Regions from separate parts of the Homo sapiens genome. Here regions 1, 2 and 3 are each linked to region 4. The links come from fine-mapping of genetic effects on gene expression. A gene starts in region 4. Each other region holds a variant in brackets. All regions are shown on one strand. Distances are from middle to middle.

Region 1 (8,135 bases), 69 kb before region 4:
CATTCCTAAATAGAAAGAAATAGAAAGTATATCTTATGCCTACATTTTTCTAGAGACTAGAAGCACAAAATATGTTAATGGAGGTTCACAGATTGAAACAAATGTACCCTGTAGTTTCCAATGAGGATAGTGGAGGTTTTGCATGGAGGGGTGGGAGGGGAGGAGGTAAGTGGACACTGTCTGACTGTACTTTCTGCTCAATTTTATGGTGTACCTAAAACTGCTCTTTTTAAAAAGTCTATTTTAAGAAAAGAAAAATAATAGATCTTCCCTGGCTTCTTTTTTCTTTTGAGACGGAGTCTTGCTCTGTCACCCAGGCTGGAGTGCAGTGGCGCGATCTCGGCTCACTGCAACCTCTGCCTCCCAGGTTCAAATGATTCTCCTGCCTCAGCCCCCGAGTAGCTGAGATTGCAGGCGCGTGCCACCACCCACCTAATTTTTGTATTTTTAGTAAAGATGGGGTTTCTCCATGTTGGCCAGGCTGGTCTCGAACTCCTGACCTAAGGTGATCTGCCCGCCTTGGCCTCCCAAAGTGCTGGGATTACAGGCGTGCACCACCACGCCCCGGCCTTCCCTGGCTTTTTCTACCAGAATGATTGGTTACAAATAAAATATCACTCTTTGGGCAAATCAGTCACATATGTACAACCCAATTTTTATCTAAAGTGGGATAGTGGTGCACTGGCCAAGTCAAACAGCAGGTATGACTTCTTTCTAGAGGTAGAAAGAAGTTATACTGAAGTAAGCATATATAAAAAGGCCAAATTGGTATTTTCAGTATGAGGCTACACCTTTGCAGTAGGGACTGTTTATAGGACCACTTTAGATAGAAGTAACCCCAGCTCACTTTCTGACTACTTGGACAGCATACAGCCTTGCACCCAGGTAGTAGGTGACATTCTACTAACTTCAAAATATCCTTTTACAAGTTACAGGGCAATGCAGGTCCTCAGAAATGGCAGTCACAGGAAGTTATTTTTCTAAACTTTGATCCCTTAGTACAGGCAAATCTGCCTTAAAAGCAAATTAGTGGTCGAGCGTAGTAGCTTACACTTGTAATCCCAGCACTTTGGGAGCTGAGGCAGGAGGTTCACTTGAGCCCAGGAGTTGGAGACCAGCCCAGCTAACAGTGCAAGGCCTCGTCTCTACAAAAAAATTAAAAATTTAGCTGGGTGTGGTGGCATGTGCCTATAGTCTTAGCTACTCAGGAGGCTGAGGCAGGAGGATTGCTTGAGCCCAGGAGATCGAGGCTCCAAAGAGCTATGATCCAGCCTGGGGGACAACAAAGCAAGACTCTCTTCTAAAAAAAGGGGGAGAAAGGTCAAATTAAATTTATTCCTTGCAAAAACTACAAAATGTAGATACTACCTCGAGAAGGAAATTTAGCATAGATCACAAATATAAACTTTAATTTAAAGATGCTGGTAAAATTTAAACACAGGTATAGAGTGTGTTAACTTTCTCAACAGAGATAATACTTTCTAGGTTTTAAACTTTAACAAAAGTCATGCTTGAAAGTCCTGGTAAACCAAGGTCACATTAACATACAGGCAAAGTGGACAAGGTATAAATTACTGTTTACCTACCAAAAAAAAAAAGACAGTAATGACAATTCTCCTAAAGGTTGAGAGAAGGACTGACATTCCTAAACAGAAAGTATATCTTATGCCTAAATTTGTCTGGAGACTAGAAGCTGCAGAAAATTTATCAAGATATTTCAAGTTGCTACCCTTACACCAAACAAAATATTTCCTAATCAAACATTAAGTCACTTATGCAGCCATGTGGGTGTAAGGATAGGAAATCAAGGGATTTTTTTCATCTCTCCGAAATTCCTGTGTCACAACAACAATGTGAATATTCTAGGGACAGGAAGAAGGCCATGTTTTGGATAAATTTAGGTAATCCTAACTCGGGAAGAACTATCCTTGAATTGATGTTTCCACTATCATTTTACTTTGTTCTAGGCCATAATAAAACCATTTTAAGTTACTTTTGAAGTTATAGTCATTCAGGAAAGCTTTACATAATATTTATTCTTCTTAATGTTTACTTTAAAGCATACTAAATGAATCTGATGCAATACTTTTCACTGACCTTTGCATATACTCTTGATGCAAAGGTCAATGAAAATTAAATTCAGAAACACAGCAATTATATATTCAGTAGGAAAAAATTTCAGTAATTCACTAGTCACATAAGTATATTCTTAAAACTTCACTCCCTTCAAATTATACTCACGTGCTATCAAAACATACTCACGACACTAGGAAGATAAGTTGTTTAGCCATTTAAACATTAATTTAGATCTCTTCAACTTCACTCTAAAATTAATCACTAGCCTACCATCTTGGAGGCCTTAAAACCTGTTGGGATTGTCATTATTTACTACAATTGTTTTTCTTATATTTAGCTATTAGTAGCCTACATATTTTATTTAACTACAAGTTGAGCTTCCCTAATCCAAAAATCTGGAAAAAAAAAAAATGCTCTAAAATCCAAAACTTTTTGAGTGCCCGTATGAAGCTCAAAGGAAACATTCCTTGGAGCATTTCAGATTTCAGATTTTCACATCAGGGATGCTCAACCAACAGCTGTAACACAAATATTCCAAAATCCAAAAATATCTAAAACCCAAACACTTCTGATTCCAAGCATTTCAGATAAAGGACACTCAACTTGTATATGGTTATGTCTCAATAAATTGCCTCTGTTATTCTCTACTAATTCTGCTGATCTGTTTATTCTCTTTCACAACACTGAAGGGCTGAAAAGACCCACAAGCCCTAATGCTGAAAACAAAAGGCATCTTAGAATTGACTTTGGGCTTACTTCTTCCCTGTGAGGAGAAAGTTTCTTCATTTTTTTTTTTTTTGTTTTGTTTTCCTTTAGAGATAAGGTCCTCTGGCTGGACTCAAACTCC[G/T]GGGCTCAAGCAATCCTCCCACCTCATCCTACAGAGTAGCTGGGCCTATAGGTACATGCAACCATGCCTGGTTCTATTTTCTTCTTAAAAAGGAAGAAAAAAAGGAACTCTGGCTACCAATACTGAAAACAGATTTGGGAGAAATCTGCTAGGAGTAGAGGAAAAGGAATGGTAGTAGAGAAAGCAAGGGCTTCAACTCTGAAATCTTTGCCAATTTTGAACTGAGAAACTTTAAAACTGAGAAAACGGGTATATTAAAGAAAGATGTTTTAAACTGGGAAAAGATTAGGTATATGAGGCAGACTATTAGTCATATGATATTTTTCTTTTTCTTTTTTTCTAGACAGAGTCTTGCTCTGTCACCCAGGCTGGAGTACAGTGGTGTGATCTCGGCTCACTGCAACCTTTGCCTCCTGGATTCAAGCGATTCTCCTGCCTCAGTCTCCCGAGTAGCTGGGGCTACAAGTGTGTGTCACCATCCCGGCTAATTTTTGTATTTTTAGTAGAGATGGGGTTTCGCCATGTTGGCCAGGCTGGTCTCAAACTCCTGACCTCGAGTGATCCGCCAGCCTCAGCCTTCCAAAGTGCTGTGGCGTAAGCCACAGCACCCTGCCCATACAATATTTTTCCATTACAAATCTTGGCTTTGGGGGTCAAGGTAGCTGGTTAAAGGGGCCACTCAATTCTTAGCACTGAGAATTTCTACCATTCCCCTAATGCCACATACTGACGTGTAATTTAATGTGAAATTGTAAAATTCCAGAACTCCTTTCCTTAGGCTGGATTTGCCATCTCCCACAAAGCCCATAACTTGAATTATCACTTAGGTCTTTGGACCTAATTTCTAACAAAGGTAAGGCTTTCAGATATGACCTGAATTCACTTCTCAAGCTAGAATTGAATTGGCTCTGATCCATGGCAAAAATCATTATTTTTTTTAAGTTTCATTTTGAGTATTAGCAGCTATAGGATCTTCAGGGTTATCCTCCTTGAAGTATTTCCTATGGTCACCCTGGACTAATGTCTTTAAATAAAACACATAATATTAAAGGGTCCATACCGACAGTGAATAAGCTATCAATGCTAGCCAATCAGTGTTGGGGAGAAGCACAGGAAAGCCTTAGGAAAAATATTGGGAAAATTGGAGGTCTTCTGTTTGCCAATACTTCAGATCAATTTCTGCATTAGTTTTCTTCCATACCCAGAATTGCATAGAATTAAGGAGGATGTAAAGCCAGAAGAAGCCTAAAGGCAGATTCTGGTTCAGTCACTATGAAATTCTTACATTCTCAAATATACTTCTTTACATTTTTATCTAAAATTTTAGGTAAAACATGCACAGAGCAAATTTCGGTTGTATCCTAGAAATGATAGCCATATTGAGGATACTGGTTACACCTGACGAAACATCTCCATGAAAGTTAAGCATACACAGGTAAAGCAACACTTCTAAACAACGTTTATCTTTTAATGTATCCTGGTAGAGTTACAGCAAAAAGTCCAAGTCTAGAAATGACAACCTGACACAAAATCCCATAATCAACGAAATGATAATGTTAAACTTACATTTCAACATCTCTTCCCTATTAGTACTAATAGATCAATCAATTAGATACTTTTTTTTTCTGACAGGATCTCACTTTGTTACCCAGGCTAGAGTGCAATGGTGTGACCACAGCTCACTGAAGCCTCAACCTCCTGAGCTCACTTTTAAGCAATCCTCTCACTTCGGCCTCCTGAGTAGCTGGGCCTACAGGCATGTACCAACACTCCCAGCAAGTTTTTCTTATTTTTGTGAAGACAGAGTCTTGCAGTATTGCCCAAGCTGGACTTGAACTCCTGGCCTCAAGCAATCCTCCCATCTAGGCCTCCCAAAGTGCTAGGATTACAGGCATGAGCCACTGTGCCAAGCAACACTTGCAGTTTTTAAGTGAAAATGATCCTGTAAATATATATATGAATAAAATCTAGAAAGCTATATAAATCAAAATGTTAAATAGTGGTTATTTCTGTCTGGAGGGTTTTTTCTTTTTTACATTTATTTTCTAATTTTTCTACAATCAGCATATGTAATAAAATTGTTAACTAATTTTAATTATTAATGAAGAAGACTATACAAAGACAAAAATGTTAAGGATCTCAGTCTTTTGTTTGGGAACATAATGGACTTGGTTTAAATCACTAATTTTGCCTTATAAAAATATGTTTAATATATATCCTACAAAAATATAGACAGAAATGCTGCATCTAGAAGGAACATAATCTATTAGTAAATTGTATGTAACTTTTCTCAGATTTTTGTCCCTATATGTATAATGATTGGGTTACATTATTTTCCAAACTCAACAGAAACATATTAATCAAGAATTAAGGAAAGTCACTTTCAGGTCAACAAGCTTAATGGCTATTGGGAAAATATTTTTACACAAATTTCAAGCCAAACACCGTTATCACTTAAAGCAAAAAACATTTAGCTAAAACACAAATTTGTATATATTTTTTTACATATATGGTTTTCCTAAAAGCATGTCTGATTTTGTATTTTAAAGTGTATTTAAAATACTGATGAAAGTACACTTAGTCAAATTAAAAGTTGAAACTTAAAAATATATGCTTATTCAGCTCACTTAGACCTGACCTTTCTCTATTCTTCTTTGGAATGTAAATATAGAAAGCAGGATTCTTAGTTTTTCCAATCACAAAGATAAGTTCTCTTAGGTAAGTTTAACAAATGTGCTCAAAAGGAAGCTAATTAAAAACCAAAATAAATTTTTAGTAGAAGCTAAATTTCTACTTAAGTAACTTCAGATGAATGTATATGACTTCATACATGAACTTTCTGTTAAAATTCATCTACAAATGCCTATTTCTTGAACAATTCACTCTCGATCCTGAAAATGTAGTATGGTTTAGGAAGCTAAATGCCAGACAGAACTGGCTCTAAACTGTTTTATAAAAAATTTTTCGGCTGGGCGCGGTGGCGTGATCACGCCTGTAATCCCAGCACTTTGGGAGGCCGAGGTGGGCAGATCACGAGGTCAGGAGATCGAGAGCATCCTGGCTAACATGGTGAAACCCCATCTCTACTAAAAATACAAAAAATCAGCCGGGTGTGGTGATGGGTGCCTGTAGTCCCAGCTACTCGGGAGGCTGTGGCAGGAGAATGGCGTGAACCCGGGAGGTGGAGCTTGCAGTGAGCCGAGATTGCACCACTGCACTCCAGCCTGGGTGACAGAGCGAGACTCCATCTCAAAAAAAAAAAAAAAAAAATTTTTTTTTCTCAGAAGACCCATGAGTATATTTTTTACAAATATTAAATTCAGGCAGATCTTTCACTTTATTCTTCATACATCACTCATCGAAAAGTTGAACCTCTGAGTAACTTATTGTGATAACTAGCTAAATCAGTTACTTTAAATGTTTGCAAATATTAACTCAAAGGGAATGCGGAATTAATGGAGTGATTTTACTTTTGCAAAGCAATTTCTAGAAAACAATATTAAAAAGCAGGACTAGGTAAAGAAAATGTAGTACATATACACGACGGACTACTATACGGCCAAAAAAAAAAAAAGAATGACATCATGTCCTCTGCAGGAACATGGATGGAGCTGGAGGGCTTAGTGAACTAACACAGGAACAGAAAACCAAATACTGCATGTTCTCACTTATAAGTGGGAGCTAAATAATGAGAACCAATGGGCACAAATAGGGGAACAGCAGACATTGGGCCTGAATGAGGGAGGAGGGAGAGCACCAGAAAAATAACAATCGGTTACCACGCTTAGTACCTGGGTGACAAAATAATCTGTACCCCAAACCCCCGTGATACAAGTTTACCTATAAAACAAACCTGTAAATGTACCCCTGAACCTAAAATAAAGGCTTTAAAAAAAGAAAAAGGAACAAAAAGCTGGGCTTCATAGAAGAAATTATTTTATAATAGCTCATAGCATTGTACTACTTTGTGGCTTTTTAATGATAAAGAAATGACTTATATTTGTAAATCATTATTACTAATTTCAGAAAGCACTTTAGTTCTTGATGAACCAAAAAGCTTCCATTTTATATTTTCTACAAAATTACTTTAATAGAAATATGAATATATTATGAACATGAAGTCACTAGACCTCTCTGTGAAATGGAACAATTTTGCTCCATATACCACACACGGTGATATAACCTAGGAAGAAAGCACTCTGCAAGAACAGTTACTACCCAGAGAAGTGATCACAACAACCCAGTTTCCTATCTCACTCATCATAGGCACTTTCTGCCTACTGAAAAAGCCAGTAATAGAAAAAGATGCAATTTGTAGGAGGGAAGAAGGTAAAGAATAAGGTGAGGGGATATACACAAAACAATCCAAGGCAGGTTTATTTACAGTCATAATATCTCCCTGAACATCAGCTGGCACTGATGATCCAGAGGAGTACCAACTGGAGACTATTTCTTTCATCACCTCTATCTTATATGTAAGGGACTCCAAGTTCAAAGAAAGCTCAAAGGAACAACCAACTGCAAAAGAATTAACTTTGCACATCATCACGGTATCTGACTAGCGCATTTGGTTTGAACAGAATTCCTGCAACAAATGGATTACTTCATAAAAACCCAATTTCAAAGTCCGCTTATTATTGCCCATCCTAAAGCTTCAATTCATAGTTTGGTCTGAAGTTTGCACCACCCCCCAAAGTTCTGTTTACCAGAAGCCCCTTCTACTCAACTTATATAACTCAAACCCGTATCCCAAATAACACTTTGAAAAGCAATGGTTTTTCTCAAGAATTTTATATGCAAATACAGATAAAGCAGAAGAGATAAACGCAGCATAACAGTACAATATTTATTTACCATCTTACCATCTCCAGCAGCAAAGCTTTAGAACAAGGAAACCCTCTTTTTACAAAGCAATCTCCTTCCCACCCCCAATTAGTTGTTTACAAATACAAAGTACACAGAACATCTGCTTTGTATGAACAAATCTTAAAACACACATATAGATATACTCCATTCTGTAAAGTACTTTATTCAGTGAATAAGGCTAGTCCCACCAAACCTGTTAAAAAAGATTTTCCTATATTCTCTTTTGAGTAAACTGCCAACATCTATCTCTATAAAAATCATTTTAGGAAAATGACTTACATCCTCCTTCAGTACAGGACCAAAATATAACAGTAACTGGACCTTAAGAGATTTTTAAAATATACGG
Region 2 (8,135 bases), 150 kb before region 4:
ATATATATGAAAGTTCCAAGTGACAGTGTTAATGAACTTTTAGGTACAGTATCATATAAACACATAATTTCTTCTTTTAGACAGGATTTACCACTGATTTTATTGAAGTAGCTTGCTTATTTACAAACTTACACCAGTTATATAAAATCGATATACTTGAGAAATTGGGTGAATTCATGTAACTTTTGAATATATAGCTTATTTTTTTCGCTTTTGAAAATGTAGGATTTATTGTAATAATGACAACTAAGGTTTCATGATTGTACTAACATACAAATGACCAAAGAAGTTGCCTTTCTAAATTGGTACCAAGGAAACTTGACTTCCACTGCCTGCTCTAAAACATATTTTGGTTTCTTGCCACCACTACTTACCACTCTATTTACTGTGTACTTTAAGGCTTCCCGTCCACAGTAGCTTTGGTTATTCTCTGTGGCTACCAGTTTGGATCCTGAGCACCTGTATCATGGTCTAAGGTTGAGAATTATGTTTTTACTACCCCAAGCCGTTCTTGGAGTAGATGGTATTTTTTTTCTACCCCTCTGTCATTCAAGTAGATGATATTTGTATCAAATTATGAATTTCATCAGCCTTGACAGTATTGATTAACAGGTCCTAAATGTACAGTTTTATTCTTGAGTAAAAGTTATTTGTATTTTTTAATGGGGTTATTACCACTACCTTCCCCACACACTCAGGAAAAAAATAAACATAAAACCTATGTGGAAACACCAGAAAGAAGTAGGATTACTTGAGATTTTCATTATTTTATTTTTATCTAGTGAACTTGGTCTTCTAAATTCTCTGCATGAAATGTCTGTTCTTTTTTTTGAGGAAACAGATAGGCTGGCCTAATCCTTTCTAAGCTTTTGACAGTTTGATGTGGCAGTTATTACTTTTTAACCAATAGGGTTATTTTTAGAGAATATATTTGACATTATGTTTCTATAATTTAAAAAGGCAAAACTGGTTGGGCACAGTGGCTCACGCCTGTAATCCCAGCACTTTGGGAGGCTGCGGCCGGCAGGTCACCTGAGGTCAGGAGTTCGAGACCAGCCTGGCCAATATGGTGAAACCACGTCTCTACTAAAAATACAAAAATTAGCCAGGTGTGGTGGCGCACACCTGTAATCTCAGTACTGGGGAGGCTGAGGCATGAGAATAGCTTGAACCCAGGAGGCAGAGGCTGCAGTGAGCCGAGATCATGCCACTGTACTCCAGCCTGGGTGACAGAGCAAGACTCTGTCTCAAAAAAAAAAAAAAAAAAAAAAAACAGCCTATCTTAGTAATTTAACTTTTTAGCTGACTGTATTAAAATGGCAAAGAGGGTGAGATACTGAGATAGGTCCTCAGTTTCAGCGTCTTCTTTTTCTAAATGGTAAAAGTAAACATTTATCACAATACAATATGAATTAAAGAAAAAACAGCAATTATACATAAAATTGAAAAACAGTATATTGAACATTATTTTATGTTTTCCCTTTGGGAAACCTCTTTGGGGTTCCATTAGAATGCTTTTGGTTGCTGCCAAATAAAAGGAATTTCGTACTGTCTTAAAACTACAGAGACTTACTGATTTGATAGAAAAGTCTGGAAATAGCATCCCTTTTAGTTGTTTGTTCAGCCTATAACCTTACTGATTCTCCTGGCTTTGTCTCTTCCCTGTGTGGTACCGGTACCTCCTCATGTTGATTTCCTTTTGGGTTGCAAGATTATCACCAGGAGCAATGACAGCCACATGCTTTGTTTACATCCTTGGGGAGAGAGGGTTACTTCCCACAGCAGTGGTTCAGATGTCCTGAGCTTTTCTCTGATTAGACCACCCTTGACCTGATTGCAATAATGAGAGGAATGTGATTAATTGACTTGGATCACATTGTGCTCCTTGCCACCACCACAACTCCCACCTCCAGCAGAGAATAGGTTTAGTCTACCTAAACCATATGGCTACTATACAGTGGGGGAAAGGTGTTTTTAGGGAGAGATGCCACCTAGGCAATCAGACAATATCTGCTGCTAGTACAGATTTAGATAGTGATGAAATTAAATAGAAATAAAAGTAAGAAGAGAAGGTAAGGGCTAGAAAGAATGAATTAAGATACAAATGTAGTGGTAGAAACACTATGCCATATATAGTTATGACTTGCTGATTTAAATCCTAGAAATGTGTTATTAATGATGCATAAAAATCAACAAATTAAAATTTTAAAAAGAACAATTTTATTATAATTCATTTAAAAGACCCATTATATCAAAGCCATTGCTCAAAGGTATTATTATGGACTTGGAATGCTGGCTTAATTGTATAGTGAGAGATGTTGAAACAAGACCTTCTTGTAAATAGGTTACAACAGAGCACAGATTAGGAAGCCTCTGGGATCCCAAGTGATTTCTCTAAAGCTTTTTAGAAAGTTGACTCCAGGCAGTAGGAACCAGTGATTTTAGTTAGTACAGAAAGATACAGACGACATGAAATAGATTTTTGTTACAGTTTTTTACTGTGACTTTGGTTTGTAGGAGAGGAAAAATATCTTTTTCCTTCTACTCTTTTTGGTCCTTGATTGGGTCTCTAACAAAAGACAGATTAACAAGAGAAAAACTTATGAATTTATTTAATATAAGTTTTATGTGACAAAGAAACCTTCATAAGGAAATGAAAACCCAAATAAACAGTTAAACCTGAACGTTTTTATACCAGGTTTGAGGAAGAGTGCAAAGTTGTTGAAGAATGTGATAGGACAAATATGAGCTAAGAGCAGTAAACTGGAGGAAACTTAGCAAGATTCATCAGCAGAGGTTCATTCAGATTCCTTTTGGTATCCTTCTCTCTTCAGAAATGAGGATTCTCCTTTCCTCTGGGTATATGGAGGTCACCTCTCACCTGAGGGGCTTATGACCTCCTTCAGGTGAGGGTCAGAAAATCCTTCCTTTGGGAGGCCAAGATGGGCGGATCACCTGAGGTCAGGAGTTCAAGACCAGCCTGGCCAACATGGCAAAACCCCATCTCTGCTAAAAGTATAGAAAAATTAGTTGGGCATGGTGGTGGGCGCCTGTAATCTCAGCTACTCAGGCTGAGGCAGGAGAATTGCTTGAATCCGGGAGGCAGAGGCTGCCGTGAGCCAAGATCATGCCACTGCACTCCAGCCTGGGCGACAGAGCAAGACTCCATCTCAAAAAAAAAAAAAAAGAGAGAGAGAAAATCCTTCCTGAATTTTAGGATCTGCTTCAGAGGAGAAGGGGCTAGGGGAGATCAAAGTGACTCTCCTGCTTCTGCTGTTTTCTCAGATTCCTTCAGCTTAAAATATTCAGTACGTCAAGGTGCCATATTTTAGTTTAGCATGTCCAGAGCCCCATTACTGGTATCTCTTAGATGTGGTTCATCTCTGCCCCTATGAAATTCATGTGCATTCTTTGCCCTGCCATTGGGAGAGGCACAGTTCCTTCCCAATATAGCTCTCTGCTTTTTGTCTGCTGGTTTTGATTTTTCACTCTCACTCTCACCCATTGCATTTTTCTCAGGCTTGAATCAAGGCATCACTAGTCCCTAATGTCCGCCAGTTGCTGGAAATACGTAACAGCTTCCTAAATTGGTCTTGTCAGCATCCATTCTTTAAGGTTTGAGATGAAG[C/G]AGGTGGTGATAGCACCCTCATCCATCCTACTGCACCTTTTTGCAGGAGAAAGGGTTTGGAGTACAGTACTTCCTCTAAAAAAATTCTTTTTTTTTTTTTTTTTTTTTTGAGACAGAGTCTCACTCTGTCACCCAAGCTGGAGTGCGATGGCATGGTCTCAGCTCATTGCAACCTCCTCCTCCAGGGTTCAAGTGATTCTCCTGCCTCAGCCTCCCAAGTAGCTGGGACTACAGGTGCCCACCACCACACCCAGCTAATTTTTGTATTTTTAGTAGAGACAAGGTTTCACTATGTTGGCCAGGCTTGTTTTGAACTCCTGACCTCGTGATCCGCCCACCTCAGCCTCCCAAAGTGCTGGGATTACAGGCATGAGCCACCGCACCCGGCCAAGACATTCTTTACAGATCCTTTTCCTTTCCAACCCCCATCTCATATTAAAAAAAAAAAAAAAAATTCTTGAAGTGCTTGAGGGAGTTCAGAGTTGTGCAGCAGGATCAGCCATTTGCTTTCTAAATTCTGCAAATAATGATCTGTCTCATAAATCTTGGAATCTTGTATTTGTTACATGCTTTATTGGTACCTCAGTCAAAGTTTTTTTTTAAAAAAGGGTGGAGGGTAAGGGGTCATCTTTTGAGCTTTTTAAACTAAATATTAGAAAGGGCTTTCCGGTCATTAGGATTTTTCCAAACATAAAAGAACCATGATGAATCACAGTTTGACAAAGTATTTTATCTGTCTAGATGGAAGATGATATTCAGTTAGGGGAAATGGAAACAAGTGGTTGTCCAACATTTGTCAGAATTATTATAACCATAAAAGTAATCCATAAAAAGTAATCCAGTTGATTTTTTTTCCATTTTAGTAATATTTTTAGGTTAAATCAGACAAGGTGGTGCAGCATTTGATATAAAGGCTTGGTATCAGGTGAACCGTCCTGCTTTGGAGATTTGTGTACCATTCTTTCTATAGATTGTAATTTATCTTCTTAGGACTTATTTTTGCGATCTTATTTCAGATTTTTTATTTCCTGCAGTTCTTGTTTTTTCATTTTGTTCTTTATACTGCAGAAATCCATTTTTCTCCTGTGGTTTAATAGTCATACATTCTCTTATTCTTAAGGTGATTGCCTTTAACTTAAGGCATTTACTGTCTTAGTTTAAGCCTCTGTGTGCCTTCCCACTGCGCCACATGGGTGGGGCTCGTTTATTTGGGACATGATCCCAGGAAGTAGAGTGAAAGACTAGGGAGAATGAGGCAAGGAAGGGAGAAAAACCAGTAAAGCGTTCTAAGTATCACTGTGGGCCACTGGGGCTCAGTCTCCCTGAGGAACCATGAAGAGAGGCCTCAGGAGCCCACCAAAGGGAGGCTGAGGTGTTCATTCCACCCCCCCGCCACCCAGAGGCATCACTTCCCCCTTGGGGGATGCATCAGAACAGCCCCCAGCAGAACAGCAGAGCCCCCTGCAGCATAGGCAGGAGCAACTGGCACAGGAACTGTTCTCCACAGCTGCGCTGAAGCCCGGTTGAGGGGACATGCATGCAGCCACAGGCCTCTGCTGCAGGGTTTGTTTATTTACCTCCCTGATTATGTAAACATCTTCCCTTTCTTCACACAAGCACTTTGGCACATTCCCACATTTCTCTGGTCTGTACCCATTCTGTCCCCTGCTAAATAATCTTGGGGTTGTTATGGACATACTTTCTTTTGGTCTTTGATTTTTTAAATAATGTTGAGCTTTTCTTAATCATTCTTACTGCCCGTATCTCTGGCATTATCTGTTTGGGGTTTTTTTTCCATCATATATGCTTCCTCTAAGAGGTTTTTTTGGTTAAGTGTCTGAGACCTTGAACACTTGGAAATACCCTATTGTGCCCTCAAATTTAAATGACAGCTGGACATAAAGCTGTAGGCTTAAAGGTAATTCATTGAGTTTTATGATAAAGAACAAATTTTTTTTTTTTTTTTAGACAGAGTCTCACCCTTTTGCCCATGCTGGAGTGCGGTGGCACAATCACAGCTCACTGCAGCCTCAACCTTCCAGGCTCAAGCAATCCTCCCACCTCAGTCACCTGAGTAGCTGGGACTACAGGTGTGTGCCACCACGCCTGGCTGATTTTTGTATTTTTTGTAGAGATGGGGTTTTGCCATGTTGCCCAGGCTGGTCTTGCAGTGGCGCGATCTCGGCTCACTGCAAGCTCCACCTCCCGGGTTCATGCCATTCTCCTGCCTCAGCCTCCCAAGTAGCTGGGACTACAGGCACCCGCCACCACACCCAGCTAATTTTTTGTATTTTTAGTAGAGACGGGGTTTCACCGTGTTAGCCAGGATGGTCTCGATCTCCTGACCTCATGATCCACAGTTTCTTAAAATATGATTACATAATTTTTTTTATTTGTAGTTGAGGTAAATATTACAGCTCAAGTAAATATAAGTTTATTTATCGGTATACTAATGTGATCTCTTCAGTTTTATTTTCCCTTAAATTCTGAGAAGGTCTCAGGGTGTCTTTGTCTCTCTCTTTCTGTATTTTGCATTATTCATTTATTATTTGGATTAAAACCTGTTTTTAGGCCAGGCACAGTCACTCACACCTGTAATCCCAGCACTTTGGGAGGCTGAGGCAGGCAGATTGCTGGAGCCCAGGAGTTTGAGACCAGCCTGGGCAACATTGGGAGACCCATCTCTACAAAACAAACAAACAAAAACAAAACAAAACAAAACAAAAAAACAAAGAATTAGCTGTGCATGATGGCAGGCTCCTCCTGTAAGTCCCAGTTACTCAGGAGGCTGAGGTGGGAGGATTGATTGAGTCCAGGAGGTCGAGGCTGCAGCGAGCCATGATCATGCCACTGCACTCCAGTTTGGGCAACAGAGTGAGACCTTGTCTCAAGAAAACCAGAAAACAAAAAACCTGTTTTTAGGGTAGGGAAGATTTTCCAAATGAACCTTCTGTTTTTACAGTAATAGCAAACTGCTGTTTTCTTTCTGTGGTCTTTTGCTTTCTACAGTATTCCCCCAGTGATATATAGATATACAGACTAGTTTTGGCTCTAGAGTGTCTTAGATAGCCCAGACATATCTTGAGTCTTAGTAGAAAACTCTTATACCAGAGGGATGTGTAAGGAAGGAGTAATGGTAAGAAAACATGCCTTGATTTCAGGAAATCCTCTTGACCCCCAGGATGATTTTCTCTTGTTGCTTACATGCCTGCTTTTATCACCATGCTACCTGAATCAATAGCTAATAATTTATAAAACTGCTTCTTCTAAGAGGTTTCTGCTTATTTTAGTCTTTGATATTATCAGCCTAAAATGACAGTTGATGGTTAAAATATTGTCAATGGATACAATATGGGTGGGTAAAATTATGCAGTTAAACAGGGTAAAACTAAGTTTCCCCCAACCCCTCTATTATATATATATATACTCTTGGCATTGGCTTTCAAATTATGTTCCTTAGGATCACTGGTATTCTACTGAAATAAAATAATACAATTTATTTAAAAAGTGAATAGAATGAACAAATTATGATTTTTTTCTCATAAATTTTTCTTAAATCTGCGCTGAAAGAAATTAAGCAAATGACATTTTTCTTAAATCTACGCTGAAAGAAATTAAGAAGCAAATTAACAAGAAGAATTTGGCAACAGCCTGTAATTTTAGTTTACCATTCTCTCTAGCTTTTATAATGGAATTAAATCAGTATTTTATGGTATTCCAAAAAGAATGTGTATGCTTTTGAGGTACTTTGACAGTTGAACACATTTGAGAACCACTGTTTTTGGTAAAAATGAAAATAGAATTTATATGTTGAAAAGTAAAGAAGAGTAGTGCAAAGATGAATTCAACATAAATAGAGTTTATATGTTGAAAAGTAAAGAAGAGTAGTACAAAGATGAGTTCAACATTTATTTACATAAAAGTTGTTTTGAATGGATAAAAGTTGCCCCCATTCTTCATGAGATTGTTTTCTTAATGTAAATGTAATATGTTAATGTAAATACCTTGATTGATTGATTGATTGATTGTGAACTTACAGGAGCCCAGGCTTGTGTGCTCGTGTTCTCTACCACAGATAGGGAATCTTTTGAAGCAGTTTCCAGTTGGAGAGAGAAAGTAGTAGCCGAAGTGGGAGATATACCAACTGTACTTGTGCAAAACAAGATTGATCTTCTGGATGATTCTTGTATAAAGAAGTAAGATGGCTACTTTTGGGGAAGGAGGGACAGTAATTCTATAAAGTTAAGACATCTTAATTTTTGCATAGTTTTACAGGTTCTAGGAAAAATTCTATACTTTCATTTTGAAGGCTTTAATGACTTAAATATTTTAATTTACCTAAAATTTCTGTGAGCTATTCTATGTGATTGGTTTGGGTTAAAAAATTCATTGATTCCTAAGTAGATAAAATTAAAGGATTAAAATTTGAAGGCTCTTTTAGAATTCTAATCTCAGGTCTTTGCACAAGAAATCTAATTCTTCATGTTAAGTCAAACCTTAATATGGT
Region 3 (8,135 bases), 92 kb before region 4:
ATAAACACAAGAAAGTGCCCAACATCATTGTTTATCAAGAAAATGCACATAATAAACTAAAATGAGACACAAGAATAGCTAAAATGAAAAAGAGTGGCAATATCAAATGTTAGCAAGGGTGAAGAGTAACTAGAACTTTCATACCTTACCTGTAGGAATGAAACTAATACGACCAACTTTGGATATTTAGTAGGTTCTCATAAAGTTAAATATAAACCTACTTCTGAACCAACAATTCCACTTTTCAATGTCCATCCAAGAGAAATGAAAACATATGACCATGAAAAGACCTGTGCAAAGTATTCAAAGCAGCTTTATTCATAAAAGCTATAAATTGTAAACAACCCAACTATCTATCAACAAGGGAATGGATCAACAAATTGTGCTATATTCACACAATACTACTTACCAATAAGAAGGAACAATGTACTAAACAATATAGATAAATCTCACAGATACTATGGCAATCACAAATCATACTGGACTCTTTCTTGGTTACTTGATAAATTTGGCCTTTCATTGAGATTTAATCTTTCAAATGTATATGATACTTTCCATTCTGGTTGACTTAAAGCCAAGGTTCTACTTTAACCCTTTCCTCTCCTACTCATACTTACAGAACACACACAGAAGAACATACACAAAACTTAGAACTGTTAGCTTGCTTTACACTTGCAGAATATCAATATATCCACGTTTTCCACAACTCTAACTTCTCTCACTATGTTAAATTTGGCTAATTTCCAGGCAACTGTATATTCTCATTTTAAAAGGAGAGAAACATGGAAAGAAAATGTATTTGTTGAATCTTCTCACTGGCAAACACTCATCCGTATTCCTTTACAGCTCCAGACCAATACAAACCTGAAATGGGCAGTGAGCTCCATGTGGGAACGCAGTGTCTTGTGGCAGGCCACACACTTAACTTGAAAGGGAACATCTTTGCACAGAGAGATCAAAAGTTTCTTTGCAAAAGATGGGAAAGATATTGGATGTGCAATTCCTTTGTTATCTGAAAGACAAAATAAACTATAATTTGCAAAGTTATTTGAGTACAGAGTAACCCAACCTTCCTCCCCTCAGCCCTTCTCAACATTAGTTGGAGTAAGTAAAAGAAGACAGTTATTTTGGCAATAAAAATCTAAGGGAAGCCACTTTCTAGCCTTAAATACAAAGAATGCCTTACTTATACTCAAATTAAAATTTGAGTCTTAAATGCCGAGAAACAGAAAACTTCCAAGATATCATGATATAACATAACATTATCCTGAATAAATATTTGCTTCCCAGGATTTCTTCAGTCTTCAAAGTTAGTAAGCCTTACTCATACGTACAAATAAATATTAAGAATCTTTGTTTTTAAGTAGGAATTGAGATAATCTTTTACTTTCATAGTTCTAAAACTAAGATGAGGATATGTAATCTCAAGAATGATCTGAGAAGTATGATAAATCAGCAAAGATTCAAGTAGTTTAATTTTCAGCAGAAGAGAGTATTAACATACCACCCAGTTTGAAACTCTGATGGAAATGATTCTTTCCAGACATATGCTTTGAACACTCCTCCTTTCTGCTAAAAAGAAGGAAGCAATTTGGACATGCAAAACACTGAATAATCTGAGGAAGAAGGTTGTTGTTATGTCCATCATCTGTGGCTTCCTAAAATATAAGACAAAGCTGTATTATGGAAAACTAAAATAAACACTCAAGTTCTTGAAAAAAACTTTCAAAATTTCCTATTTGTTGTTTATTCGCAATATCCTGTATCAATTTTTAACATGAAAGATGTTCTTCCCTGAGTGTGAATTATGGAACTTTTATCATAACCGAGGTCCCAAATGTCAAATTTTTAGTTTTTTTTCCTCAAAACCAAATTATGGCCATCTGTTGTAGTAACAAATATAGAAGAACATTTGCTTTCTATATAGTTTTCATTTTTACATACACATTCACATGTAATATATAAATGCATAAATGTGATCACACCACATACACTTTTCCTAATGTTTTGCTTTATTCACTCTACCCTGCATTATTATTCTTCCACAAATTTATCCATGCTTACTCAGTTACAAAGACACATAGAAATAAGGGGGAATGTCATTGTTTTATCAAATATTATTTTATAGGCTCTTCTGCCTATTAGTTTTCTCATTCCATAGTACCTAAAGGAAATCCCTAAAAATCAGCTGGTATATCTCTAATTAATGCTTCTTAATGGTTGCAAACTACGCCATGGTGTCAATCTATTCAACTCAGTCAACATTTATTTTCAGTTTTTTTCTTTTTTTAAGTTTTGGGTTTTTTTTTCCCACTAGAAATAATGATCTTGTAAACATCCTTGAATATATATCCTTACTGGTAGGTGCTTTTTTCTTATTCTCAAGAGTGGCCCTACAGGGCTAATGGGTATATATATTTGAATATTAAAAGACACTGTATGACTGGTTTTCAAAAAGGCTCTACCAATTCACATATCCCCTAGTACTGAATGAGCCTGGCAGTAATATATATTACAGATTTTTTTCATTTTTGTCAGGCAAATTTTTGTATTTTTGGTAGAGACAGGGTTTCCCCACGTTGCCCAGGCTGGTCTCGAACTTCTGGGTTCAAGTGATCCACCCGCCTTGGCCTTCCAAAGTGCTAGGATTACAGGCATGAGCCACCGTGCCTGGCCTTCATTGCTACTTTAATTTGCATTTCCTATCTATAAGTGAGTTTGAGCATTTATTCATACATTTTTTGGCTACCCAGATGTGTTCTTATGTGAATTTTTTATTCATATTATTTAGCTTTATTTCTCAATTGTTTTGTTTTTTCTCCTTCTGGTCAGTTTGTATCAGTCCTTTGTTACTGAAATTAATTCTCTGCCTCATTTTCCATTTTGCAATATTTTTTCAAATATCTATTTTGTTTATAGTCTTCTTTATTTATTTTTGAGACACGAGCTCACTCTGTCACCCAGGCTGGCCCACTAGTACCCTTGACATCCTGGGCTCAAGCAATCCTCCTATCCCAGCCTCCCAAGTAGCTGGGACCACAGGCATACACCAATACACCCGGCTAATTTTTTTATTTTTTGTAAAGGCAAGGTCTTTCCATGTTGCCCAAGCTCGTCTCTAACTCCTGGACTCTAGCAATTCTCTTGCCTTGGCCTCCCAAAGTGCTGAGATTACAGGCATAAGCCACTGTGCTCGGCCTATGGTCACTTTTTAAATTTGACACAGTCAAATAAGTATGTCTTTTCTAGCATCTAAGTTTCTAAACCTTGTTAAGAGCCTCCTCTACCTTAAAATAGGAAATTTTAAAAAGTGTGTATTTATAAGTGTATGTATATTTGTGTGTGCTTGTTATAAATATAATTTAACTTCTTGTTAATGGTCTTTAGAGTAATAGCCTCAAACATTGTATTGTGCCTCATATTTACTATCATTAACACTAGAACCATCAGTATAGTTTGTGTAGTGCTTATGAGATGCAACCAGAAGAGAGATAAAAAATTTTTATTTATACCGAGCACATGTCAGGAACCACACTGAGGTTCTAAATATGTTTACCTACTTAATCCTCATAATAATCCCATGAGGTACCATTTTCATTGTTTAGAAATGAGAAAATTGAAGTTCTGATAAGTCAACCAACTTACCCCTCCTCCCAAGTTGTACCCCTCCATAGAAAAGACAAACTTCCATTTAAACCCAGCTTTCCAATCTTGGTTATGAATTATATGCTGCTTTCACTACTCCCTCCCCACCACACTCCCCTCCTGTTTTAATTTGATGAGTGCCACACAGAAGAAATAACACCGAGGAGGACATTTTCATTCCAATTTGAAGATTCTAAATGATAAGAGCAATAAAGGCATTTAGTAACCACCAATTTATACATATTTCTCCTACTTGAAGAACCCTAAACTCATTAAATCATTTTTAGTTTAATTGTGAGTTATAAATGAACTCACATAAAGTTGTTTAAATGATTTGCTCAACAGAACCAAAATGTGATTCTACATAAAATTTTATTAGAATATACTTATTACAAAAATATGGCATACTTGGCCAGGAGCAGTGGCTCACACCTGTAATCCCAGCACTTAAGGAGGCTGAGGTGGGAGGACTGCTTTGCCCAGGAATTTGAGACCACCTCTCTCTCAAAAAAAAAAAAAAAATTTTATATATATATATACACACACACACACACACACACACACACACACACATA[T/C]ATATATATATATATATATATATATATATATATATGGCATAGCTGCAAATACATTCTACAAACTGGGAAAAGGAATGGGAAATAAGATATCTGATAAGTTAAAGTGCTCAATTCCTTTTTACCATATTTCTGGTTACATTAAAAGACACCATACAAATTTGTACAATAAAAAAAGTAGGGCTGGGCATGATGGCTCATGCCTGTAATCCCAGCACTTTGGGAGGCTGAAGCGGACAGATCACAAGGTCAGGAGCTCGAGACCAGCCTGGCCAACGTGGTGAAACGCCGTCTCTACTAAAAATACAAAAAATTAGCCGGGTGTGGTGGCAGGCGCCTGTAATCCCAGCTACCCAGGAGGCTGAGGCAGAAGAATCGTTTGAACCCGGGAGGCAGAGGTTGCAGTGAGCCGAAACTGCACCACTGCACTCCAGCCTGCACAAGACAGCGAGGCTCCGTCTTAAAAAAAAAAAAAAGGCAGAACCAAAATACCATTTCACACCCACTAGACTGGCTAAAAACTGAAACCCACAAACATTGCTGGCGGGAAAGTAAAATGGTGCAGTGCACTAGACAGCAGTTTGGCACTTCTTCAAAAAAATTAAAAAGGTACCATATGACCTAGCAATTTAACTCGTTAGAGGAATTAAAACGTATTTTTACACAAAACTTAGATGTTGGTTTATAGAAGCATTGTTCGTAACAGCCAAAAAGTAGAAACAACCCAAATGTCCATCAACTGATGAACTGTTAAATACAATGCGGCATATGTCCTTACAATGAAATATTATTTGGCAATGAAAAGAAATGAAGTACTGATACATGCTACCATATGAATAAGCCTTGAAACACATTATGGGAAGTGAAACAATCTAGTCACAAAGGCTGTATATTGTGTGATTCCTTTTATATAAAATATCCACAATAGATAAATCCATGGAGACACAAAGTAGCTTAGTGGTTGCCTAGGGATGAGGAAGATGGGTTAGGCAAGGAGAAAAGTCACCTTAGATGATACAGTAGCCCTAGAAACAGAATAACCAGTGGTAGCTTCAACAGACTCACAAATGACACTGAGGTACAAAGGAGCTCACAGTATATCGACCACCACTATCACACAACAGGGAGAAAAGCAGGGTGCTATCTGGTGATGTAATAGCCATTGGATGGGTTTAGGTGTCAAAAGCCACTAGAAACTTGCTACTCAAAGTATGACTCAAGGAACGACAGCAATGGCATCACCTAAAAGCTTGTTAGAAATATGAATCTAAGGCTCCACCTGAGACATCTTGAGTCAGAATCTGCATTTTAACAAAATTTCCAAGTGATATGTGTGTACATTTAAGTTTGAGAAGGCCTAGTCTAGAGTGAAGAAATTGAAGATGAAAGAAAATGGGGGAGGGGAGCAAGGAAAACAATGCAAATTGTGAATAATTTGACTTTTTTCCATTGGGGACTGCCTCTTTACAAAACAGAATTCATACCTATAAAAAACAGCGAGGCTTATACAATCTTCTAGTGACCTCTTCTTGTTGATTTAAAAGAGGCAATTACAACCCCCCATGCATACTAGTTTTCTTTAGAGTCCTTGTGGTGACACAAATGTCAAGGAATAAGCAATCATTGAAGGTTACAGGTCAGGCCTGAAATAGAGTATTACATTTTCTCTTAACAATCTCGTACATAAGCATAACGATACCATTTTAGGGATGAAGAAACTAAACTCACAGATTCAGTAACCTGTTAAGAATATGAAGCAAATAATAGTAACAGTGGAACCCAGGTCTGTCTGATACCAAAGCCTTTGCCCTTTCTATGTTACCATACTGCTTTTCAGAACGCTGAAGGTCATAAATCTACTTCCTAGAGAGACGGCAAAAAGGAGTGCAAAACAGCATGGAATGTGTGATTCCGAGAAAAAAGAAAAAACAAATTAATGAAATTTGGGGAAAAAAATAAGTGAAAAAATTCATTTTAAACTACCTACTCAAATTTACTAAAGAAAACAGACATATATACTCATTATAGTAGAGAAAACACTCAGTATATGAATAGGGAAACATGTCCTGAAAGAACTCTAATTCTGGAAAATGCAGAACATCAGTAACCTACTGCAAACCCTAAAGTACGGAATGCAGTTCTCTTTCACCCTTTTTCCCTTCCTTCCCCAAATCTTCCATTTGTCATGGAAATGGATAACCCTATCATTTCTTTCTTCAATATGTCTTTTGGTTTCACTTTAAGGTCTTCATTCTGAATGCCATTACCTAAGTCAAACAATTCTCTCATCTCAGAGCTAAATTACTGTAAAAGTCATCTAAACTGGTCTCTTTGTCCACATCTTTGAATCCATTCTGAACAATACTGCCATTCTAATGCCACTCAGTCTCTTCAGGGTCTCTAAAAAAAAGGAAGGAATTGGGCTATAGAATTAGAAGTCCTTCTAACTTTAAAAGAATAATGTGTTATTTTCATCATGTCACTGTTCTATAATAGTTTCTTCTTGCCAATATCAAGCTTAAAATCCTGTGTCTTTATGATCATGTTACTATTTATTTTTGTTAGGAATCCCCAAGACTACCCTACTACAGTGCCTAGTCAATGTTGAACAAGACGCAGGCTCTCCAAAAACTAATGAGTCAGTGTAAAATAAAATCTGCTTCAAGATGCACATCTGTTCTGGGAATGTTCTCTAGTGCCAGGACAGAGATGGGGAGGACTGCAGAATTCAATTAGATATACTTAGAATGCAAGCTTTAATTCTCTGCTGTGAACCTACACAGAATCCAAGCTATTCTCCATGTTACTTTCCAGGTATAGCTCTAGATAGAAGCAAATTCTGAAAACATTAACTAAATAAATGTTTTACTATTTCAAAATCTAATATTTATTCGGTAAATCCAATTTGATATTTACTCAAATATCCAAATATGGATATTCTCAAAGGTTTTTAGTTAACAGAATATTTAATATGGCATAGTTTTTAATAATAGAAAACAAACAATACATCCAATGGGAAATTTATTAAATTAATACTATATTCATACAGAAGAAAACAATTCAATGATTTAAAATGTAGAAATGTATGCATTGATTCGATGAATATTTAAGCTTTTATGTTTGCAACACACTGCTTTAAATCACAGAACAATTTAGATATCTTATCTTATGTAAAAACATTTATCTATATATGGAGTAATACTAAAAACACATATATCAAAATCTTAATCCCAGTCCTTATCTCTGTGAGATTAAGGATGACTTCTTGTCTTTTTGTTAATATTTTAAAAATTTTTCATAATGAACATACATTACTTCTGCAATGTTAGTAAGTCATTAAAGTTATCTACTATCAAATATGGTAAAAACCCATTAGAGTTCTGTATTACATGGATGTGCATATCCATGAATCAACTCATGTCTCTTAAGATTTAACACTTACTTAGAATTATATGACATAGCTTTTTAAATACTAGTTATATTCCTCAAAAACTAGCATTAATAACTTGTCATTTACTATATGGCGCCAACATTTCAACAAGCAGTGTAAGACAGTGGACTTAAGAACAGGGTTCTGGTTCTCATCAAGTGACTCACTCAGAGCATCTTGAACAAGGTAATTTAATTTCATAGAGCAACTCCATGAAAGGATTTTGATGATAATCTCTAGGACTGCTGACTGTAAGGTATCAAGTTTACCTGCCTATAATAACTAAATGGCCCAAATCATTTTATTTTCAATTGACAATTACAGTTTTGATACTTATGTGTATCACTGGTAATTGCAAGCTTAAGAACAGCAGGAAAAAACCTCCACTTAACTCCATGGCTATCTAGAAAAATAATACTTTTAATTTAGGACATGCTCTTACCTTATCAAAAAGGTGATCTCTATATTGTTGTTGAGTAACAAATTTT
Region 4 (8,135 bases):
AATTAAACTTAAATTTAACAATCAGTGGGAGATTTTTTTAGTTGGAATTGGGAAAGATTCTCGAGAAAATCTTGCAAGTGGCACAGAATAATTAGAAACAAAACGGGCAAAGGGGCTGGGAGCAGTGGCTCACACCTGTAATCCTAGCACACTGGGAGGCCAAGACAGGAGGATCACTTGAGCCCAGAAGTTCAAGATCAGCCTGGGCAACATAGTGAGACACCAACTCTACAAAAAAAAAAAATCAGATGGGTACGGTGGCTCACACCTGTAATCCCAGCTACTTGGGAGGCTGAGGTGAGAGGATCACTGGAGCCCAGGAAGTTGGGGCTACAGTGAGCTATAATTATGCCATTACACTCTAGCCTAGATAAAATTTAGAGCAAGACACTGTCTAAAAAAAAAAAAGAGGCATGGGAAAAGAGTCAGAGTACATGAATACGTAATACTGTTCCTGCTAGTAAAAAGGAAAAAAAAAAAAACATAATAATGACAAAACCCAAAGAGCCTAAATCTATATAGAGGAATAAAGCCATGTAGATTCCTTTCAAAATGGGAAATAGCACAGATATTGATTTAAAAAGATACAGATTTCAGTTAGGCACAGTGCCAGTCTCAGCTGCTCAGGAGGCTGAGGCAGGAGGATCACTTGAGCCCAGGAATTCAAGTCCAGCCTGGGCAACATAGTGAAAAACCCACCCCCTGGCCCTACCTCATTAAAAAAAAAAGATAACAGATTTCATAGTACAATTTTTTTTAACTGAAATGATTATCAGTAATCTCGAAGTTCTTTGATAACCCTGCTTTATCCTCCACATCACTGTACAGCCAAACATCAAACTCTGAGTCTTCTTGATCCTTTCTTTACATATACACTACCCTCATCATAGACCAGGCCATAAATGCCCTAGTCAAAATCCTAGATTTTATTCTGTAGGCAAAGGAATCAATAAATAACATCAAGATGGGAACATTATTAGAGCTGTTTCAAGAAGGTTAACCACATAAGAGAGCATGTGGGAAGAATACAAACAAGATAATCAATCTAGACAAATGGTAATGTGGTACAAAAATAGTGATGGCAAGGAGGAAGTAACCTTCCCTGTATAGGTACTATATTTCAATAAAATTTACATTAAGATAAGGACTCTTTTTGTATCCCCAAATCTTTTATCATTCCTTTCTTTCAGCATATTGTTTATTTTGGAGGCTAGGTACATGACAGAACACAAAGAGGATTCTGTGCCACAACGCAGAATGAAGGCTAGATAATCAACATTTATATGAAAAGACTAAGGAATCCAAACCAGAATATATCAAGAAGTAACAAACTTTTTTTTCTTTTAATCTGAAGAACCCACAAGCAGAGAACTATACCCAGCAGCATTGCATCTTTACTGGATGGTACTATAAAAAACACAGAGAAATAAGCATATCCTGGTAGAGCCCAGTATAGGATGGGGTTACAAAGGAAAGTTGTCTCTGAGTGTATTTCAAAGTGGAATTAAGTTATCATTGTCTTTTATGTGGCACCACTGAAATGCAACAGGGATGTTTTACTACATTCTTTCTGGTACTGCAATTACACTGACAGCATGTAATTCACTTCTCCATATAAGAGCTGTCAAACCTTTGATCTTCTATTTTGAACAGGGTTAAATATAAAGGGTTCTATCACGCTGGATATACAAAATATTGTATGAAAAGATGTAGAAGGATCTTTATATTTAAAATAAAATTTAAAGTAAGAGTTTTAAACCTCAGCTAAACACAGCCTATATATTAACTCACAATTTAAAATATAATGATTTATTCCTCAGGATATTACACAAATCTATACCTATTTACTTTTCCAAACTTAATTTTGTACATCCCATCTGTGTTTCTCAACGGCACATGGATCATGAATCAGACGTATGTCACTTCTACATACTTTCTCAATGGCACATGGATCATCAATCAGACGTGTGTCACTTCTACATACAGATGCACAAAAAACTCATCAAGATCATCTGTCCCAATCATTCCTGTTTTTATACCAGTTAAGAGGAAACCAAAATTATTTTTCCTAAAGACCCATGAACTCCTCTTCCCAAATGTTTCTCGTTACAAAAACAGAAACCATTGCTCTTTGATTTCAAGTTACGTTGCTTACTCCATAACAACAGTGAAGGCAGAGTCAGCATACAATCTCCCTTGGTATCATCAATATTTAGAAAGGTTCCAAATGTCAGGAACAAAATATACACACACTATTAATTGGGAAATATGTCCAGAAAGTGACAGGGTAAAGAACTTATACACAAAACACGAAAAACAAACAACGATGTTAACAAAACAATGTTTAGGGAGGAAATTTTAATTTAAAAAACAAGTGACTTACAAAGTCGCCCTAAACCTACAAAAACTAAAAAACACAGAAACATTAGACAGACACTCCATTAAAGAAAAATTCTACAGCCTGAATACCAAACTGCAACTAACTACGGCATTCCAAAAGACGAGTTGGGGACAGAACTGTTTTCTGCCTGGCGAGCTGAGATACCACTTTACGCAAAGCCTTTCTAAAACTCCAACAATTATGGATGAAAATCACCCCAAAATATATCATAAAACACTCCCTTCTGCTTTAGAAACCCATTCTGTCCAAAGTGTGCTCAGAAATCCTTATGTCCCTGCACTTGTCTGAAAATGAAGATTCCTAGGCCCCCGCCTGGAAATTCTGATTCGGTAGGTCTGCAGTGGGGCCCAGGAATCTGCCTGTTTATACTTACTAAGGCTTGAAAACTACTGTCTCAAAGGGAACAAACTCAGAAAAATAGAGCATGTTCCCAGTGATGTAGGATTCTTCATTATGAGCATCAACTGTACTATGCCGTAACATGATGATCTCAGAGGTTAGAGAAATCTTCAAGCTATTTGCCTTCATGTTAGAAGCACCATAACGCTAAGATTCTGGGCTCTCACAACCCTTCCTGTTTTCTACGTCCTTGCTCATCATTAGCAGCTCCTTCCTCCGTGTCGCCTTTAGAAGTTACTCTTGCTCCATTTCAAAACAGCGTTTTAGACACCAGCGTTTTTATCTTAAGTTTAAATGAAAGGCAGGGGGCGAGATTAAGTGTACAGCACGTTCTTTAGGACGTGCTCTTTGTGATGGCTACGGGGGTGGCTCAGATAGCTCTTTTGGTAAATTTCCCAATCCTGCGCCATGCTCCAGTGTCTAGTATGTATTAGACACTCATGAACATTAAATGACCAGGTGAGGTAACATTACATAATGGCCCACCATAGTCTTTTACTCTGGGAAAACCCCAATCATCATTGCTACTTACACTGACAAACTGAATGTCGTCTTCATTTTCATCCGTTGTTGACTCAGATGCCTCAGGGCCAGCTGGAGGGACAGATTCTATTATCTATAAAAACAAGCCAAAACATGCTTATCTGTTCAGCCACATTCGTGTAGGAAGAGAGCGTTTCCGAAAGGAACAATTAAAGACAGAGAGCTCTTGAGGAAAACGAACTGAGCACAATTTCACGGAAACCCGACTAGGAACGGAACTCGAGCTCTGGCTCTTGCCACAGAGTGTGCGGAGCTGCAGGGACCCAACGCTGAAAACGCGTTAGTTACCAGCCTCTCACAATTCCCCTTATCTACTCCAGGAGGAACGCAAGCTCAACACCGAAGGGCAATCCTGCCTTAAAACGTCGCTCCCACTGGCCCAGCCGCGGCCACAACGAACGCCAGGGCCCGTGCGGGGGGCCGGGCGGCCATTGTTGCTGCGGGTTCCTCGCTCAGACACGCACCAGGCCCCAGAGCTGGGCTCGGCCCAAGACACTGAAGAGGTATCGCCCCGAGGCTGCGACGGAGCACCAGGCCTCAGACCGCAGAAAACACAAACCCTTCGCGGTTCGCCTCTGAGAACGCCAGGACCCTCACTCGACTACTCACTTCCGACCCCGGGTCTCCCATGTCTCCGACGGCCGCGCTGACAGCACCACTGCTCCTGCTGTCCCTACTGCCGCAGCCGCCACCACTCCCCTTCCCGCCCTGCACCGCCTCGCGCTACCGGGACCCGCCCCTGCGTGAGCTGGGAGGCCACTGGCGGAAAGAGACGAAAACCGCTTCAAAAGAGGGGCAGCCCTCACTGGTCCGCTATCTCCCCGGAGCCTCTTTCTCTCATTCCCGGGCTTCCTTCCCCGCGCCGCAGAGGATGCTGGGATGGTAGTTCCTACCCGCCGCGCGACCGCGCCGCGCGACTGCCCCGCGCGTGGGTGAAGAATGGAAAAAGACTCTGAGCTACAGCGAAGTCGTCTCCCTTCGGTGTTGCTCTACTATAATAAAATAGCCGAGTTCTTTCTCTCACTTTTTCACAACCAAATATTCGTCTATGTAATAGATCAATGGGAATGAAAAAAAATTGTGTGTGATTTGCTCAGAAATTGCCTTACCAAAATCGTGGCTCACCTTTTTATTTTAACATTTATTCACAAATGATTTTAAACATGAAATTTATGAAAGCAAATTTTAACAGAGAATATTCTTTTAAAGCTTTTATTTGTTTACCTCTATCAGCCTAGGACCACCTGTTATTGACAAGTCTGTAGTCCCAGAAAATCACCTTTATCATTTTGACCCTGATCTACAATGCACAAAATTATACAACAAAGGAGCTATGAGGTATCTGATTAGCCAACTGATCTTCAGCAAAGCAAACAAAAACATAAAGTGGGGAAAGGACACCCTTTTCAACAAATGGTGCTGGGATAATTGGTGACCCACATGTAGAAGAATTAAACTGGATCCTCATCTCTCACCTTATACAAAAATCAACTCAAGATGCATCAAAGACTTAAATCTAAGACCCGAAGTCATAAAAATTGCTCAAGATAACACCGGAAAAATACCTTCTAGACATTGGCTTAGGCAAAGACTTCGCGATGAAGAACCCAAAAGCAAATGCAACAGAAACAAAGATAAATAGACTGAACTTAATTAAACTAAAAAGCTTCTGCACAGCAAAAAAAATAATCAGCAGAGTAAACAGACAACCCACAAAGTGGGAGAAAAGGAGAACATAGGAACAAAGGAAAACATAGACTTACTAGGATTTTAAGGAGTTGGTGAAATTTAAGTGAAGCAGTGTTTTGATAGGTTCAAAACCGTCTAGTGCTGTGTGTAAAGGGTTCAACATCACATACGGACTGCATAGCGAGCCCAGGGTCTTGTTAACTTCAAAACTACAAAGTTAACACACACAGAGTATTGTGCTCAGAAACCCCTTCCTCCGTGTAGCCATGCCCTAAGTGTGTGGATTTATTTCTGGGTACTGTATTCTGTTCCATTTGTCTGTGTGTCTGTTTTTATACCAGTACCATGCTGTTTTGGTTACTATAGCTCTGTAGTAGAATTTGAAGTCATGTAATGTGATTCCTCCAGTTTTGTTCTTTTTGCTCAGGTTAGCTTTTGCTATTATTCTCGGTCTTTTGTGGTTCCACATAAATTTTAGAATTGTTTATTCTGCTTCTGTGAAGAATGTCATTGGTATTTTGATGGGGATTGGATTCAATCTGTAGATTGTTTTGGGTAGTATGGGTAGTATGGACATTTTTTAAAAATAAAAATGTATTTTTTATTTCAATAGGTTTTTAGGAAGCAGGTGGTGTTTGGTTACATGCATAAGTTCTTTAGTGGTGGTTTCTGAGATTTTGGTGCACCCATAACCCAAGCAGTGTATCCTGTACCCGATGTCTTTAATCCCTCACCCCCTCCCACCCTTTCCCGAGTCCCTGAAGTCCTATGTGTCATTCTTATGCCTTTGTGTCCTCATAGCTTAGCTTCCACTTATCAGTGAGAACATACAACATTTGGTTTTCCATTCCTGAGTTACATCACTTAGAATAATAGTCTCCAGTTCCATCCAGATTGCTGTGAATACCAGTATTTGCTCCTTTTTATGGCTGAGTACTATTCCATTGTGTGTGTGTGTGTGTGTGTGTGTGTATGTATGTGTATATACACCATTTTCTTTATCCTCTTGTTGATTGATGGGCATTTAGGCTGGTTCTATATTTTTGCAATTACGAATTATGCTCCTATAAATATGCATGTGCAAGGATCTTTTTTGTATAATGACTTATTTTTCTGTGGTTATTCCTCTTCCTAGTAGTCAGATTGCTGGATCAAATGGTAGATCTACTTTTAGTTCTTTAAGGAATATCCACACTGTTTTCCATAATGGTTGTACTAGTTTACATTTCCACTAACAGTGTAAAAGTGTTCTCTTTTCACCACATCCATGCCAACGTCTATTATTTTTTGATGTTTTGATTATGGCCATTCTTGCAGGAGTAAGGTAGATTTGCAGTGTAGTTTTGATTTACATTTTCCTGATAATTAGCTGTGTTGAGCATTTTTTCCATATGTTTGTTGGCCATTTGCATATCTTCTTTTGAGAGTTGTCTATTCATGTCCTAAGCCCACTTTTTGATGGGGTTGTTTTTTTTTTTCTTGCTGATTTGTTTGAGTTCTTTGTAGATTCTGGATATTAGTCCTTTGTCAGATGTATAGATTGTGAAGATTTTCTCCCAGTCTGTGGGTTGTCTGTTAACTCTGCTGATTTTTTCTTTTGCTGTGCAGAAGCTTTTTAGTTTAATTAAGTCCTGTCTATCTTTGTTTCTGTTGCATTTGCTTTTGGGTTCTTGGTCATGAAATCTTTGCCTAAGCCAATGTCTAGGTTTTTTCCGGTGTTATCTTGTACAATTTTTATGGTTTCAGGTCTTAGATTTAAGTCTTCGATGCATCTTGAGTTGATTTTTGTATAAGGTGAGAGATGAGGATCCAGTTTAATTCTTCTACATGTGGGTCACCAATTATCCCAGCATCATTTGTTGAAAAGGGTGTCCTTTCCCCACTTTATGTTTTTGTTTGCTTTGCTGAAGATCAGTTGGCTACAAGTATTTGGCTTTATTTCTGGGTTTCTATTCTGTTCTGTTGGTCTATGTGCCTATTTTTATACCAGCACTACGCTGTTTTGATGACTATGGCTTTGTATATAGTTTGAAGTTGGGTAATGTGATGCCTCTAGATTTCTTGTTTGTGCTTAGTCTTGCTTTGGCTATATGGGCTCTTCTTTGGTTCCCTATGAATTTTAGGATTGTTTTTCCTAGTTCTGTGAAAAACGATGGTAGTATTTTGATGGGAATTGCATTGAGTTTGTAGATTGCTTTTGGCAGTATGATCATTTTCACAATATTGATTCTATCCATGAGCATGGGATGTGTTTCCATTTGTTTGTGTCATCTATAATTTCTTTCAGCAGTGTTTCGTAGTTTTCCTTGTAGAGGTCCTTCACCTCCTTGGTTAGGTGTATTCTTAAGTACCTTATTTTATTTATTTATTTAATTTTTATAGGTATTGTAAAAGAGGTTGATTTCTTGATTTGATTCTCAGCTTGGTCGCTGTTGGTGTATAGCAGAGCTACTGATTTGTGGACATTAATTTTGTATCCTGAAACTTTACTGAATTCATTTACCAGTTCCAGGAGCTTTTTGGATGGGTCTTTAGGGTTTTCTAGGTATATGATCATATCATCAGCAAAAGCAACAGTTTGACTTCCTCTTTACCAGTTTGGATGCCCTTTATTTCTTTCTCTTGTCTGATTGCTCTGACTAGGACTTCCAGTACTATGTTGAACAGAAGTGGTGAAAGTGGGCATCCTTGTTTCATTCCAGTTCTCGGGGGGAATGCTTTCAACTTTTCCCTGTTCAGTATAATGTTGGCTATGAGTTTGTCATAGATGGCTTTTATTACTTTAAGCTATGTCTCTTAAACATAGAGTTGATTTTAAGTGCCTTGAGGTAATCTTCTTTGGGTTAAATCTGCTTGATGTTATATAATCTTCTTGTACTTGGATAATAGTATGTTTCCCTAGTTTTGGAAAGTTCTCTGTTATTATCCCTTTGGATAAACTTTCTCTCTTTTTTTTTTTTTTTTTTTTTGAGACAAAGTCTCGCTCTGTCACCCAGGCTGGAGTGCAATGGTGCAATCTCGGCTCACTGCAACCTCCACCTCCCAGGTTCAAGTGATTCTCCTGCCTCAGCCTCCTGAGTAACTGGGACTACAGGCACCCGCC

Alleles and levels. Alleles are on the strand shown, and positions count from the first base shown. SD is a standard deviation of normalised expression in the study named. Not every link is listed here.
For the expression in macrophages after interferon gamma of the gene that starts at base 4,036 in region 4, C is the low allele of the variant in region 3 and T is the other (large effect, 1.3 SD a copy in Alasoo 2018).

What was found. PIP is the estimated chance that this variant, and not a neighbour inherited with it, causes the effect. A credible set is the group of variants that fine-mapping cannot tell apart.
Region 1: its variant is the best candidate, but not a certain one, in a credible set for the expression of KIAA1586 in blood mononuclear cells (TOPMed, PIP 0.70).
Region 2: its variant is the best candidate, but not a certain one, in a credible set for the expression of KIAA1586 in lymphoblastoid cells (GTEx, PIP 0.66).
Region 3: its variant is the best candidate, but not a certain one, in a credible set for the expression of KIAA1586 in macrophages after interferon gamma (Alasoo 2018, PIP 0.73).

Annotation. Positions count from the first base shown.
Region 1 is chr6:57,111,679-57,119,813 of GRCh38, reverse strand. The region is part of intron 3 of ZNF451 (zinc finger protein 451); the gene reads right to left. ZNF451-AS1 (ZNF451 regulatory antisense RNA 1) reads left to right here. Exons shown (of 4, transcript NR_110742.1): 3 at 4,251-4,358; 4 at 4,556-4,903. Among named protein-coding and RNA genes, the nearest start is that of ZNF451, 26 kb to the right of the region's middle. The variant G/T (reference allele first, on the strand shown) is at 2,924.
Region 2 is chr6:57,196,139-57,204,273 of GRCh38, reverse strand. RAB23 (RAB23, member RAS oncogene family) reads left to right here. Exons shown (of 7, transcript NM_016277.5): 4 at 7,668-7,824. Among named protein-coding and RNA genes, the nearest start is that of RAB23, 22 kb to the left of the region's middle. The variant C/G (reference allele first, on the strand shown) is at 3,629.
Region 3 is chr6:57,134,825-57,142,959 of GRCh38, reverse strand. ZNF451 (zinc finger protein 451) reads right to left here. Exons shown (of 15, transcript NM_001031623.3): 7 at 8,090-8,135; 8 at 1,505-1,658; 9 at 865-1,012. All of the region lies in intron 2 of ZNF451-AS1 (ZNF451 regulatory antisense RNA 1), which reads left to right. Among named protein-coding and RNA genes, the nearest start is that of ZNF451-AS1, 33 kb to the left of the region's middle. The variant T/C (reference allele first, on the strand shown) is at 4,221.
Region 4 is chr6:57,042,594-57,050,728 of GRCh38, reverse strand. It overlaps KIAA1586, which reads right to left and starts at 4,036. Exons shown (of 4, transcript NM_020931.4): 1 at 3,953-4,036; 2 at 3,333-3,416. The coding sequence starts at 3,973. RefSeq lists enhancers at 2,571-3,448, 4,265-4,354 and a silencer at 4,984-5,278.